Homo sapiens: one gene and its partner. The protein of the gene in region 2 purifies or fractionates together with the protein of the main gene of each other region. This does not show direct contact. Each region holds a gene or a part of one and is shown on either strand. Other genes may lie near its edges.

Evidence for each region.
Region 1: the proteins of ZZZ3 (region 2) and YEATS2 purify together in Homo sapiens (affinity purification with mass spectrometry; 3 studies listed by BioGRID, with this or other methods). This does not show direct contact.

The regions. Positions count from the first base shown.
Region 1 is NC_000003.12:183,805,414-183,812,875, forward strand, and holds the end of YEATS2 (YEATS domain-containing protein 2), read left to right. Parts: intron 1-1,452; coding exon 1,453-1,679; exon of another isoform or gene 1,680-2,616; coding exon 2,617-2,691; exon of another isoform or gene 2,692-2,699; intron 2,700-3,316; exon of another isoform or gene 3,317-3,439; intron 3,440-3,683; coding exon 3,684-3,757; intron 3,758-4,605; exon of another isoform or gene 4,606-5,038; intron 5,039-5,061; coding exon 5,062-5,170; 3' UTR 5,171-7,211; downstream 7,212-7,462. UniProt on the Homo sapiens protein: Chromatin reader component of the ATAC complex, a complex with histone acetyltransferase activity on histones H3 and H4. YEATS2 specifically recognizes and binds histone H3 crotonylated at 'Lys-27' (H3K27cr).
Region 2 is NC_000001.11:77,672,659-77,679,889, reverse strand, and holds part of ZZZ3 (ZZ-type zinc finger-containing protein 3), read left to right. Parts: intron 1-7,231.

The DNA.
Region 1 (7,462 bases), on a different chromosome or scaffold from region 2:
AAAAGTTGTTCTCTGCCCCCAGCCCCATTTATATAGAAAAACAGAAGCTCCACCCCTCCTGTCCAAGGAAACCTGGAGCACAGAGGTGGGGTTACTTTAAGACTTAGGGCCGGGCTCAGTGGCCTCCCACTTTGGGAGGCTGAGGCAGGAGGATTGTTTGAGCCCAAGAGTTCAAGACCAGCCTGGACAACACGGTGAAACCTTGCCTCTACAAAAAATGCAAAAATTAGCCGGGCATGGTGGTGCATGCCTGTAGTCCCACCTATTCGGGAAGCTGAGGAGGGAGGATTGCTTGAGCCCAAGAAGTTGAGGCTGCAGCGAGCTGTAATCATGCCACTCCTCTCCAGCTTGGGTGACAGCGCAAAACCCTGTCCAAAAAAAAAAGGGGGGGCAAGTCCCAGTTTTGCCATTAAGCTTCTTGAGAGCCTAATGCAGGATGGCCTCTCCTTTCTCTCATCTCCTGCAGCGCTTAATATCAACAGCATGAGGGCTTGTCTGACTTCGCTGTGTAAGCTACTCGGAGAGCAGAGACCGTGTTAATGATCCCCGGGCTTCACTGACATTGTGTGGAAAGCACAGTACTTGCACATACTAGGCTTCCTTTTAATCTGACTGATTCCAAACGGCCCCTAACCTACAATGGTTTGACCTGTGATTTGATGTTGTGACTTTACAATGGTCTGAAAGCTGTAGGCATCAGCACATACCTTGACTTACGATGGCCTTGTCCAGATAAGGCCATCGTAAGTTGAAAATATCCTAAGTCAAAAATGATATTTTCAACTTACGATGGGTTTTTCAGGATATAGCCCCAGCCATCATAACTTGAGGAGCAGCTGGAGCTTGTTAGAGCCCAGTCAGTAAAACAAAAGGCCAGGAGCTGGGTGCCCTTAAATCTTGTACCTGGTGTGGACCTCACACACTCATCCAGAAAGTGGAAGGGCACTAGTGCCCTAGATCTGGCCTTGAGGTCCTCACACTCCTGATTAGGTTTTGTATAAATCACCTTATTAGAGACTGGACCCATAATATACATTGAAATGTTAACAGTCCTGCTCTCTGAGCAGTGAGAATAGGGGTGATTCTTTTTATTTTCTTCACTCTGCATTTCTAAATTTTCCAGATTTGAGATGAGGAAAAATCAGGTCAGTCCTTAATACTCAGAGGGAGGGGGATGACCTGGTTTTTGGTGGCAGAAGTGAGAATTCCTACTCTTTCATCTTAGATGGCAGTTACCTTACATAGATCACACACAAGATGCCTGTGTTTATGCCTTTCTCCCTCGTGAATTACTAGTTCTCATCATTATAGATCCATAGAATGTTAGAACTGGAAAGAAGGTCAGCTCCCCTGATGCTTATCCCCCTTCCTCAGACCATGGGTCTCTTGGAGACGGAAAGTCCTCTTCCGTTGGCCCCACAGCTGTTGTAACACTGCTTGCCTGTCATTTAGAGTGCCCATCATCATTCTCCTCTGCTGACAACCTCTGCCGCAAACTGGAGGACCTGCAACAGTTCCAGAAAAGGGAACCCGAGAATGAGGAGGAGGTGGACATCCTCAGCCTCTCCGAGCCAGTGAAGATAAACATCAAGAAGGAGCAGGAAGAGAAACAAGAGGAAGTCAAGTTCTACCTGCCACCAACCCCAGGGTCTGAATTTATTGGGGATGTCACACAGAAGGTAGGGGTTGTGGTGTTAATAGTTCATGCAGCAGACCAGCTCAGAGCTAGATGTTCAGACGTTCAGCTTCACAGACCCAGACCCAGGTGTTCAGCCTCACAGACACAGACTCAGACCCAGACTCTTCTGGTGCCGTAGATGCTTGACTTCCTTCTGCCTGGTTGACCCAGGTGTGCTCTCAGGGCTCCCACCGTCCCACATCAGAGCCCTTGGGCAGAAATGCTAATTACATGTGAAAACATTGCTTGTTGAACGCAGACGTGAAGCAAAGCTGGCTAGATAGAAATGGTTGATTACTCTTCATCTTGTTTTTCTCATCTGCCTCAGTAGAAGCACCTTTCCCTCATGAGGCACGTCGTACTCTTTCTGAGTTGCACGTCAGCGCGTAATCCTCCCCTGATGTGTTGATAGCTCCTGAGTGCCCCGCCTGTGGTGCAGATGGCGTGCACCTGCCTTACTATACAGGAGAGAGGTATTTATCCACCCTGCTGGAGCCTAACAGCTCTTCAGCATCTGCCAGTTGCTCAGGGCCCAAGGTGAAAGACAGTGTGCTTTCATTGGATGCCATGAAGAATGGGCAAGATGCAGTTTCCAAGTGCAAACAGGACGTTGGAGTCTGATTCCAGACCTTTCAAAGTGTTGATTGCGTATCAGAACCCAGGCAGATCCCAACCATGTTCTCCCACGAAGGAGATTTGAGAGATTTTAATAGGATTATAGTCATATTTTAAATATCAGCCAGAAATGTGGAAAAACAAGATAACATTCTTCTAGATGTTATATTCCGTGTTCCTTTCCCGTGAATTTTGCCCAATATGTTTGCAGAGTCCTCCTTCCAACCAGGCATCGCTTTGCATGTCAGGGAGGTATGCTTGTTTGGAGAGAGGCTGTTTCTAAAGCAGCGATACGAACAAACGGCTTTCTTCTGCTTTTCCAGATTGGGATCACCCTGCAGCCCGTGGCACTCCACAGGAACGTGTATGCGTCCGTGGTGGAGGACATGATCCTGAAGGTGGGTGCCTGCAGGGGCCGCCAGCCAGGAAGGATGGTTGCATCCCAGGCGGTTTGGAGTAAGGGGCAAGGACAGAAAAGGAACAAAGATAACAGGCTTTAAAATGTCTCGTCTTATTTGGGCTTAAGTTCTCTCTTTTTGTTTTTTTGTTTTTTTTCCTTCTGATTTTTAAATGGACTAAGTTATGTTTCCTCTGAGTCATGTGGTTTCAGGTGCCTCCTAAGACGTATTCTGGGGGTGGTGGTCAGTGTGCTCGTTGCTTTAGGAGGTGGCAGAGACAAAGCCTATGGTTTTCTGTACACGTCACAACAGCAAACAGCCCCAACTGTCCTGACCCTGGCAAGGGGACGAAAATGCCGCAGCCTCCTTCCCCAGCCTGATCCTAGCTCAGCAGTTCCTTTCCTCGTGGATCCTCTCCAAGAATAGGGATACCTCCGTAACAACTGCTTTCCTTAAATACAATGTCTAGGGCTGGGCGCGGTGGCTCATGCCTGTAATCTCAGCACTTTGGGAGGCCGAGGCGGGTGGATCATTTGCAATCAGGAGTTGGAGACCAGCCTGGCCAACATGGTGAAACCCCATCTCTACTAAAAATAAAAAATTAGCTGGGCTTGGTGGCGCTCACCTGGTAATCCCAGCTACTTGGGAGGCTGAGGCAGGAGAATCGCTTGAACCCGGGAGGCGGAGGTTGCACTGAGCCAAGATCGCGCCACTGCGCTCCAGCCTGGGCGCGAGAGTGAGACTCCATCTCAAAATAAATAAATAAATAGAATAATGTCTGATTAATGAAAATCACTCCAATTCATAATTTCTCAGAATCATGGCCTTTATCATTATGGTCTATTATTGAGGCCTTTAATTTTTTCTTAAGGACTTTTTAATCCCTAGTTGCAGTGGTTTCAAACATTTGGGGTAAGGGATGGGGTTAAATGTGTCCCTTCTTGCCAGCAAGCAGATGGCCATTTGAAGAATAACAGCATCTTCCATTGTAGGCTACAGAACAGCTGGTGAATGATATCCTGAGACAGGCTTTGGCAGTTGGATACCAGACAGCTTCTCACAACAGGTATTACTATCTCTGCAGTCTGTGGTGTGAGGCTTACACCTCTTTCCTAACAGTTGAATTGCCCATGAAGGTGTTTTATACTTACATCAATCCAGTAGGAGATGGAGTGAGTGCTTAGGACACTCTTAGAGCCAGATGAGCTCAAGGGTCTGCTTTGTCATTTTTAGAGAACCTCATGGTTGTGAAAGCTCACTCAGCTTTGCTCAGAGGTTTATATCCTCCTCATTACTTCACAGACACCTAGGACTCTGTTTTATTACAGGGTTGAATAAATATTAGCTTTGCAATTAAAGATAACAGTGTCCATTACATGTCAGACACGAGGGCCAAGCGTTGCATATATTACCTAATTTGTTTTTCATTGCAGAACTATTATTCTCTTTTTAAAAATCAGGAAACCGGGCTTTGAAAGGTAATTTTACCCAGCTTACCCAGCAAATACAGTGTAGACCTGGACTTCCGACTCAGGTCTCATTGGCTCTGAGGCCCCTGGGCTCGCCACTGCTCTTTGCTGACTCGTTGTCTTTGATTAAGACACTGAGTTTCAGTCTGTTCCTAGGCCCTGAAAGGATGGTAGATAGGCCACATCTGCTTTTCTTTCGGAGGAAACAAATATTATTTTATTGCATTATGCTAAAGGCTGTCACAGATTTATAAAATTGTAGCAAAGTGCCTGAGGACATGAAGGGCCTAAATCAGAGGAATAGTAGATGAAACTTCACAGGAATATATCAGACAACATAGGCGTCTTTAGAGAAAAGGAAGGGGAACCAAGAGTTCCGGTCCTGCTGCCCACTGTCCTGCTTGGACCCACAAGTGAGCCAGGGCCTCCTGTGGCCCCTGCTTACCTCTGTGCTCCCTGTCCTGGAGGGGTAGAGTGACTTAGGTGCTTTTGATGGAACGATTAACATCACGCCTGGCCTGGCGTGGCTCCGTCTCCCGTCTTTCTAGGAGATGGGAAATAAGGTCCCAGAGTTTTGTGGTGCTTTGACTCAGCTTTCGGTCTGCTGAGACTCACTCACAAATGTGTCATTCCGTTCTGCCATCCGCTTTGTTTTCTTTCTCTTTTCTCAGTTCTCAGAATCTTTTTTCCTAATTATTCAACCAACTTGTTGACATCCTTCTCATGCCTATGACAGGAAGGCAGTCCTCACCCCAGAGTGGCCCTAAGCTATGTCTGTGGCTCAGGAGCCCTCTCCACGGGGCCTCTGCCTGGGATGGTCCCTGTGATGAGTTAAGTGAATAAATGATGAGATATACGTGAGAGAATTTCACCTGGTAACACCCTTTGTTTTTTGGACCAGGATTCCCAAAGAAATTACAGTGAGTAATATTCACCAGGCCATTTGCAACATTCCTTTTCTGGACTTCCTCACAAACAAACACATGGGAATATTGAATGAGGACCAGTGAGCGGAGTGAGGTGCCCTGGAGAAGCAGGCTTTGAAGGCACAGCGAAGCTGTAACTGAGGACCCTGCTGCTCGGGAAGGAGGTGGTTTCCAGTGTGACTCGGCATGTCATGGCTACCCAACCTTTGCCGCTGCCTGTTCCCACGTGTCACCAGCACGCTGCACTCCAGATGAAATCCTCCTAGGACAGGAGTTTGTTTCCTGAGTGTGGAGTGAGGCTGTCAGTGGATCCGTGCTTTGTCGGCCAGCGTTTCTGCAGTCTTTGTAAAGGCCCCACGAGAGCGGGCCAGGCCGTGTGCCTCAGGCCCTTCTCCCTGGGTGTGCTTAAGGGGGCTCCTTGGGCCCGCCTCCCCAGGAGGTAGAAAATGAGTGGCAGGCTAGAGATTTCACCCATTTTGTGGGCTGGAGTTACCAGTAGCTCCAGCAGTTACCCTGAAGAGAGATTGGGCTTCAGCCTTCAGCAGGTGGTTCTCTCCCATGCCTGGCCTTGGTGTGGAGGGGCTGTACTCTGAGCCCAAGTGAGTCAGCTATAGGAAGAGGCCATACCTAGAGCCAAGAACCATGAAGGCCTGAGAGACGGCAGACTGAGCAGAATTCCTTTTTTGAGCACGAGAGCATTACTAGAACCATTGTCAAAGCAGTGGCAAGGGACGGAGAGGTCCCAACAGGAGTCAGGAAGAGGTTTGATTATAACCAAGAAAACTCACTATGCTAGGAATAGACTGTGTGCACCAGTCCCAGACACTTGGCAGAAGTGTAGCAGCGTTACACATGTGTGCGAAGCAGATCGCAGGTTCCACGCCATCTGCATGGCCTGCAGGAGCTTCTGCTGCTGACCCCATGCTGAGTGGCCAGTGGGGAGCGGCGCCCGGCAGGCTCTTCTGGGGTCGTCTGTCCTATCCGTGGATTGTATATACTCTTCTCTGTTAAGGAGTTTTTCCCAAGAAGAAAAGTATTTAAAAGAAATACCAGTGAGTGCCTTAAAGTTGGAGAAGTAACTGCCCATGCCCAGAAATAAGGATGCCAGTGCCCAGAAGCAGTGAGATTAGTCTGTGTCCACAAGCAGAGGCCCCCTCGATGGGAGGGAGTGGCAGGCAGGAGAAGGTGGCGCTGCCAGGTGCCCGGGTCTATTGGAGGCGCCCCATCTCAGACTTCCTAACACAGCCTGTGTGGAAGGCAGAACAAAGAATGCATGCCCAGTCAGAAATCTGTTCTATTCTGCTCCAGGAAAATCGGAAACCTGTGAGTCAGAGTCAGAGAAACTTACCCAAGCAACGTAATTCCTGTTTTCATGGGTCCTGTAGATGTTTGAGTCAGGAAGGTAAGGCGGGGAGTGACTGAATAAACTCTGCCTTTTAAATTGAGCATCTGGGCCGGGCATGGTGGCTCACGCCTGTAATCCCAGCACTCTGGGAGGTCGAGGTGGGTGGGTCACCTGAGGTTGGGAGTTCGAGACCAGCCCGACCAACATGGTGAAACCCCGTCTCTACTAAAAATACAGAAAATTAGCTGGGCATGGTGGTGTGTGCCTGTAATTCCAGCTACTCGGGAGGCTGAGGCAGGAAGAATCACTTGAACCCAGGAGGCGGAGGTTGCAGTGTGCCAAGATCATACCACTGCACTCCAGCCCTGGTGACAGAGGAGACCCCGTCTCAAAAATTGATTGATCAATTCAGCATCTGAGGGCTGCAAGTACAGAAGGAATCTATTCTCAGCAGGGCATAGGGCACGCACTGGCTTAACAGTTTAGTATATAAGGCTCAAATAGTCTATACCTGAACTGCTATAAGCAAGGTCGATAGGGAAGTGGATAGATTGCTTCAGCAAAGTGAACTGTGAGATCTCCAGGACAGAGGGAGAAAGATCTGATCCAAATGAGAACAGATTGGTTATTGCAGGTATCACAGCCTAAAGAAATTATCTTTTTGCAAAAGAAATATTAAATGATTTAGCAGTCTCCACGTGTGTTAATGTTTCAAACGTGTATCATAATGTGTATAATTGTGTAACAAAATTGTCTACAATAAATCTTTTGGTATTTGTGGTGGGTGTTTCTGAGTTTGAAGCATGGTACTCAGGCAGGGTTCTCCCTGCACTGGGATGAGGTGATGGTGTAGAGTCTTATTGATATGTTTAAATTAATTCCTCTACTTCTTGCCAAAAAAAAAAAAATGTTGCAACCGTATAAGATAAAGGATTACAGTTACATAAAAGTCTAAAAAAAATTTGGAAATGGACATAATTATTCCTGACAGCTTGGGGCAAAAGAAAACTGCATAAATGAGCTCAGAGCTT
Region 2 (7,231 bases):
TACAGACACGAAATTATTTGAGGTACTTGGTAGAAATATACTGAGAAAAATCCAAGGAAGAGGAAAAATGTATTTTTACATGGTTTGTGTTTGGTTGAGTAAAATTTAAATAACCAAGAAATTTAATTTTCACTTTTCTCAATTATTACGGTCATATAAATGATGAGAGCTAATGAACTTCAGTGATCAGAGGAAACTATTAACAGTGATAATATAATAATACTGATTTATTCTCACTTGAGTTTTTTCCTTAAGGTCTGACACCATGCCAATTTCCACAGACCTGTAACTTTAAGTTACCTTAAGCTGGGCCTGGTGGCTCACGCCTGTAATACAAGCACTTTGGGAGGCCGAGGTGGGAGGATTGCTTGAGACCAGCAACAACATAGTCAGACCACGTTTCTACCAAAAAAGAAAAAAAATTAGCCTGGTAGTGCACGCCTGTAGTACCAGCTACTTGGGAGGCTGAGAAGGGAGGATTGCTTGAACCCAGAAGGTTGAGACTGCAGTGAGCTGTGATTGCACCATTGCACTCCAGCCTGGGCAACAGAGTGAGTGAGACCCTGTGTCAAAAATAAAATAAAAACACCTAAATTTCATATGAAAATTCAGTTTGGAGTCACCTACAAGAAATAGTTGCTAGAAGAGTTTCATTTTTATAGTAGTATTTACTAGAGATTTGGTATATACTCTGGTGCAAATTTCTGTAGTTAATGCTCTGATAACCACTATAATTGTACTCTGAAAACCACTCTCAGTAAATATTTCCCAAAGTCCAAAGTCTTGATTATTTTGTTTGACCCTTTCGTTCTCACCTTTCTGTTTTTCTTTTCAGCTGATTTTTCTCATTTATGTAGGTAATTTTTGTCTTATTAGAGAGGAGTGAGTTGACTAACTTGCCTTGAGGAGAATATCACTTTGTGATTAATCAAACTATTCAGATATTATTATTACTGTTGTTTTGGAACTTCAGTATATTTGTAAGTTAGAGGCAGTAATTCAGCTGACATTTATTGCTAATGACCTCAGCCATTTGAAACATAACAGCAATCCTGGACATAAAAAAATCTCTAAGCCTTCAAAATGACTGCAACCAAGTATAATAAGCCATTAGCCTTTATTAGGAAACTACTAATTGGAATTAGTCCACAGATAAAAATCTTCAGTGTTGGCCATTGGAGTTAGGGACATTGGCAGCTGAAATGTCATCTACAGGGGAAAAGGAAGAACTATTAAAAAGTAGGTGGAACTATAGTAGAATAGTGTTTTAAGGCCATTACATAAATACATACACTCCTATAATCATTAACTTCTGAAGGAATGACAGTATCGTAGAGCAGCCTAGTAAGTTGATGCATCACAATGATAACTTTAATAATGAACTTTTATTCTGTGTACTATGTTTAAGGAAGTAAGAAATTGGTGTCTTTTGAGATTGCTATAAAAGTAACCATTTTCAAAACTCTGTTAATTAAATGTTAAGTTTCAATTTTCTGGAAAATTTACGTGTAGATCTCTCCTTATCAGATGACACCAAATAAAAATGGTGCTACTGTGTATGGAACTTCCTTTGTTTTATTATTTTAACCTATTTATCTTTCTACTTAATATTTCAAGGAATTACTCCCAAACAAGGCTCTATTACATTTAATATTTGATATCAGTAATGAACAACCAATTGCCTAAAGATTAGCACATTTGCTAATGGAGAAGATAGTAAAGCAGATAATTAGAATTAGTAAATGACCTATGCATATGATTCAGTTGTATAGTTTTGAATCCTGGTATTGAGTCTATTAGCCCAAGTGTCCTAAGGTGCCAGGTTTTTGTAGTGAGTTTTTTTCATTGCATTGCTGGCCTCCTCTGTCTCATTTACTATGTTAATTTAAACCTTATGCTTCCATTAGTGGTAAAGTAGATAGTCTTTGACTTGTGTATAAGGGGTGTGTATGTATTTTAATGATTTTGAAAGCTGGTTTGAGGAATTAGATTTTGGGAATTAATATAACAATTATTAGCATTTTGATATATTTCTTCCATTATTTTAATGTATATTTTTTATGTATTTGTGGGTAAAAACATTTAATTTCATGTCCTGCTTTTTAACCTACTGTTAGGTACCACTTTCCCATTCTCACAATGCATCTTAATAACTATCATTATAAATGATTGTAAAATGTTCTGTGCAGTGAACATATGTTATTCCCCTATGTGAAGAACATATTTATACATGTTTCTTGTATATAGTATTATCTCTCTCTTGTATATTGCCAGAATTGATTTTTTAGGTACATTTTGAAGGCTCTTAAAACATACTGAACAATATTAATCAAAAGGGATAAATTTGTATTCTCTTTCGAGTGGTTGTTACCCTATACTCATCAACATTTAACATTTTTTATAAAGGTTTAATGGGGGTGTATGACATATTGTGCTTTATTTATTTAATTACTGAGGTGAAGCATGTTTATAGATGTATTTATCTTGTGAACTTTGAAGATAAATAGATTTTAACATTATTGCAGTCAAACATCTTTTTGTTTGTTTGTTTTGAGACAGAATCTTGCTCTATTGCACAGGCTGGAGTGCAGTGGCACCATCTCGGCTCACTGCAGCCTCTACCCCCCGGGTTCAAGCAATTCTCCTGCCTCAGCCTCCTGAGTAGCTGGGACTACAGATGCACACCACCACGCCCGGCTAATTTTTGTATTTTTGTAGAGATGGGGTTTCACCATGTTAGTCAGGCTGGTCTGGAACTCCTGACCTGAGGTGATCCACTTACCTCGGCCTCCCAAAGTGCTGGATTACAGGGGTGAGCCACGGTGCCTGGCCCAAACATCTTGATATAATTTTGTTCTGCTGATTTTATGAAATTCCTCCCTTTTCAGAACTGTAATAAACAATATTGGTTTAATTCTGTTTGTTTAGTTTTTCTAAGTTAGATTTAAATAAATTTAAGTTTTTACCTCATCTGGCATTGGTGTGAAATGAGAATCTAAATGTTTTCCTCCAAATTGGTAATTTTCTCAACTCTGTTAAATAATGCTTTATTTAATTTTTTAATTTTTCTCATTTTTTTGTTATGCTTCATTTTTACATTTTAATCATTTTTATTTTAAATTGTTTATTTTTACCCCAAGCCTTAAGAACATTCATATTGTTTTTAGATGATTCTGTGATATGTTTAATATCTTTTGCCTTGGCTTTCTTATTGTGGTGTTTGTTTCCTTATTTATTTTTAAGATTACTGTAAGTTGAGGATAATAAAGTTTATTTTTTAACAAAACAATGTTTTATAATTCCTTTTCTTGTCAGCCAGAATTTGAAATAAGATTTTTCCATACCACATAATTTGGTTGCATTAAATGAAAATTTCCCCCTTTTTGAACAGAGATAAAATGTGAAACTACTTAAAAGTACTATGCTGGCCACAGTGGCTCATGCCTGTAATCCCAACACTTTGGGAAGCTGAGGTGGAAGGATCGCTTCAGCCCAGGATTTGGACACCAGTCTGGGCAACATAGTGTGACCTCGTCTCTACAAAAAATACACAAAATTAGCCTGGTGTGGTGGCGTGCGCCTGTACTTTCAGCTACTGTGGAGGATGAGGTGGAAGGATCACTTGACCCCAAAAGATTGAGGCTACAATGAGCCCAGATTGCGCCCCTACACTCCAGCCTGGGTGACACAGTGAGACCCTTGTCAAAAAACCCCCAACCAACAAGTACAGTACTAGAGACTGTAAGGAGTAAAACTACTTTGGCAGATTTTGGGGAATTAGAGAAATTAACTCCTAAGATTAACAGTTTAGGATGTATGCTTAAAGTGTTAAACAGCAGTATACAACTTGATATCATATACCTCTAAGATATTTAGTGAAAAAGTTTCATTTAACAGCTGTAGGACTCAGGTTACAGAATCACAATACCTTCTTCAAATGTTGAGATAGCAATATGATACATTTACTGAAATTTAATAGCATAGACATTCAGGTAAGCTTTAGGAAGGTATCTATGTCAAAGAGCATTTTTAATACTGAGAGTGCTTACTGTTTACTATGATGCCTTTTTTTCTGTTATGAAATAATTTGTGATCTCAAAATAATTGAAAAAAGGTATTTATGTTTGTTTACATTTTGAAATTGTGATGGCTACAAAGCTGTTAATTTTATTAAATGGCTTTAATGTTTTCTGTTTACAGATTTTTCTGGTTACAATAATGCTAGTAAGAAAAGCCAGATTTAAGTAACTTTGAGTGTGAAAAAATAATAAATATTTGAAAAAAAAAAAAGTGTGTCCTGTGCTTGAAGAACACCTACAGAGAACTGAAGATGAACAATTCGATGTGATGTAATTTCCTTCTGTCTTGGGTTATGGTGAGATTTAAAGGGATTGGAACATAACTTAACACCTTTTTTTCCTACTGGAATTCGGCTGCCACATGAGAGATGAGTTGCTTTTTCAAAATGTCACTGAAATTGTCCAGGAAATAGCGTTGCTAATTATATTCTGGCACTATTTACCCTCCTTACTAGTTTTTAAAGTTTTTTTTTTAATTGGTCAGAAGTTAAAGGAAAATAGATCCTGCCGTTGTTACACACTTTCCCGTTGGAAAGCAGATTGATGTGTTTCATAAATAAAATGAAATAATGCTTTTAGGTGGCTTGGCTGTATTATAGAGGGAACTACCAAGATTATTTCTCCTGGCAAAGGGGTGTGTGTGAGATTTATCCACTAATAGCCCTTGAAGAACTTTGTAATACTTCTCTCTTTTTTTATTTACATTTTTTTATTTCCATAGATTATTGGGGATGTAATACTTCTCTATATTAACTCTCCACTCTCCACCCCAAACCTATGATTCTTACCTGAACTGTCTTCACTATATGTAGATTTTTATGGTGTTTTTGCAGTAATGTTTCTTTTTTTTTTTTTTTTTGAGACCGAGTCTTACTCTGTTGCCCAGGCTGGAGTGCAGTGGTGTGATCTCGGCTCACTGCAACCTCTGCCTCCTGGGTTCAAGCAATTCTCCTGACTTAGCCTCCTGAGTAGCTGGGACTACAGGCACACGCCACTATGTGCAGCTCATTTTTGTATTTTTAGTAGAGACGGGGTTTTGCCATGTTGGGGAGACTGGTTTTGAACTCCTGACCTCAAGTGATCTGCCCACCTCGGCCTCCGAAAGCGCTGACATTACAGGTGTGAGCCACTGCACCCGGCCAATGTGTCTTTTCCTAAGGAGAAATCTCCTCTTTTTCCTTCTTTTTAAATAAAGATAAATACAATTAAAGTATAATACACACAGAAAGTTCTCATAAATGTACACCTCAGTGAATTTTCACAGTGTGAGCACACTGGTGTAATCGTCACTAAGAAGAACACTGTCAGAACTCCAGAAACTTGTGTGTTTATTCCGGTCATTAATGGTCCCTAGGTGCCACCCCTCACCAAGAGAAATCACTCTTTTGATGTCTAGTACCACAGAATTATTTTATTTGCTTTTGAGCCTAGGATTTATACAGTATGTATTGTTTTTGTGTTTGGCCTTTTTTGCTCAATGTTATGTTTGTGAGATTCAGCTGTTTTATTGTGTCTTCATCCTGTTCTGATACGAGTAACCTGAGAAATCCTATAACTCAACCTGATTTGTACCTTGAGATCTCAACACTTAGACATTTTTCTCATGGCATTCATGGTTTTCAAGAACTCCTAGGAGGGGACATCAAATAAAAGCCTTCTTTGTTTTAAACTCTGTGGTAGACCTTTTTTTGTGTTTTAATGACCTTTTTTGTGTTTTATTGCTATTTGGGTAAATAGTAGATTTTAAAATTTATGTCACTGATGGCTTATGCAGTACCTCAGCTGCTTTTTTTTTTTTTTCCTACTTAAAAATTTTGTTTTAAAAACTATGGTACAGGATTCCTGGCCAGCTAATGGCTTTTTGGACTTTTATGACTTGGTAGCTTGCTTTTCATTCTTTGAATTCCTCAAGCAGTGATTCCCATTCTAATTTTTATGATACCATGTAGTATCTTCAGTTATTTCAAAGCATGTTGTGAGCCTCCCCACCAAGAAAAAGATTCCAATTTAAGTTTAAGCCACTTTACTTTCAAAATACTTAACATTTATGAACAGTACAACTTTTATATTTATGAACAGTACAACATTGTGGTGTGTAGATTATAAAATCAAATAGGCTGGTAAAAAATTGGGAATCAGCTAAGAGACTTACCTGCTTATTAACCCCTTTCAAGCTAGCTTCAAGTGTAAAGTGCAACTTTTATTTGTGTGTGTGTGACACAGTCTCACTCTGTCACCCAGGATGGAGTGCAGTGGCGCGATCTCAGCTCACTGCGACCTCCAGCTCCTGAGTTCAAGCAATTTTCGTGCCTCAGACTCCCGAGTAGCTGGAATTACAGCCGCCTGCCACCATGCCTGGCTAATTTTTGTATTTTTAGTAGAGGCGGGGTTTCTCCACGTTGTCCAGGCTGGTTTCGAACCCCTGACCTCAGGTGATCTGCCCTCCTCAGCCTCCCAAAGTGCAGGGATCACAGGCGTGAGCCACCCTGCCTGGCCGTAAAGTGCAACTTTCTTCTCAGGAGTTCTCCTTTTGTATTTTCTTCTCATTTCACTTTCTTAATTTTAAGGAAAGTCATAGTGAAAGATTTATGACTGTATTCCTGCACATAATTTTTCTTTCATATAAGTCCTATGGTTATGATATGCCTGGATGATATGCTTAATTTCCTTTTTAAGTGAATTTTAGTTATTTCAGTCAGTAAGTGTTAGGGCCAGAATATTATAAATGGCCAATAGTTGTTGAAATTAGGTATTTTGGTCATGATTAAGAGTGACGTGTATACTTAGCAGTCCTGTACTTCAGTCATCTTTTATTTGCTGAGCTTTTGTGGAAATTAAATGATTGTAAAGTTTTAGCCTACTTTCTAAAAAAAAATCACTTGTTTTTTAATCTGGAGAGTTTAAATGTCTGACTTTGGGGAAACATCATGCAATAGGGGAACATTATCTCCTGAAGAATGGGGGAGAGATGAACTAACTTTTGTAATGGTTATAGAGTTACTTCTAAATTTGAATAAATGCTGTTCTACCTAGTGAACTAGTCAGAGCATTTTCCACTTTGACCTAAGCCAAGCACATGGGTAGCTACTTCTCTTTCTGTAGTTAAGAGAATTTCACCAAGGATATTTTGATTTATTTGTAGCTATATGGCA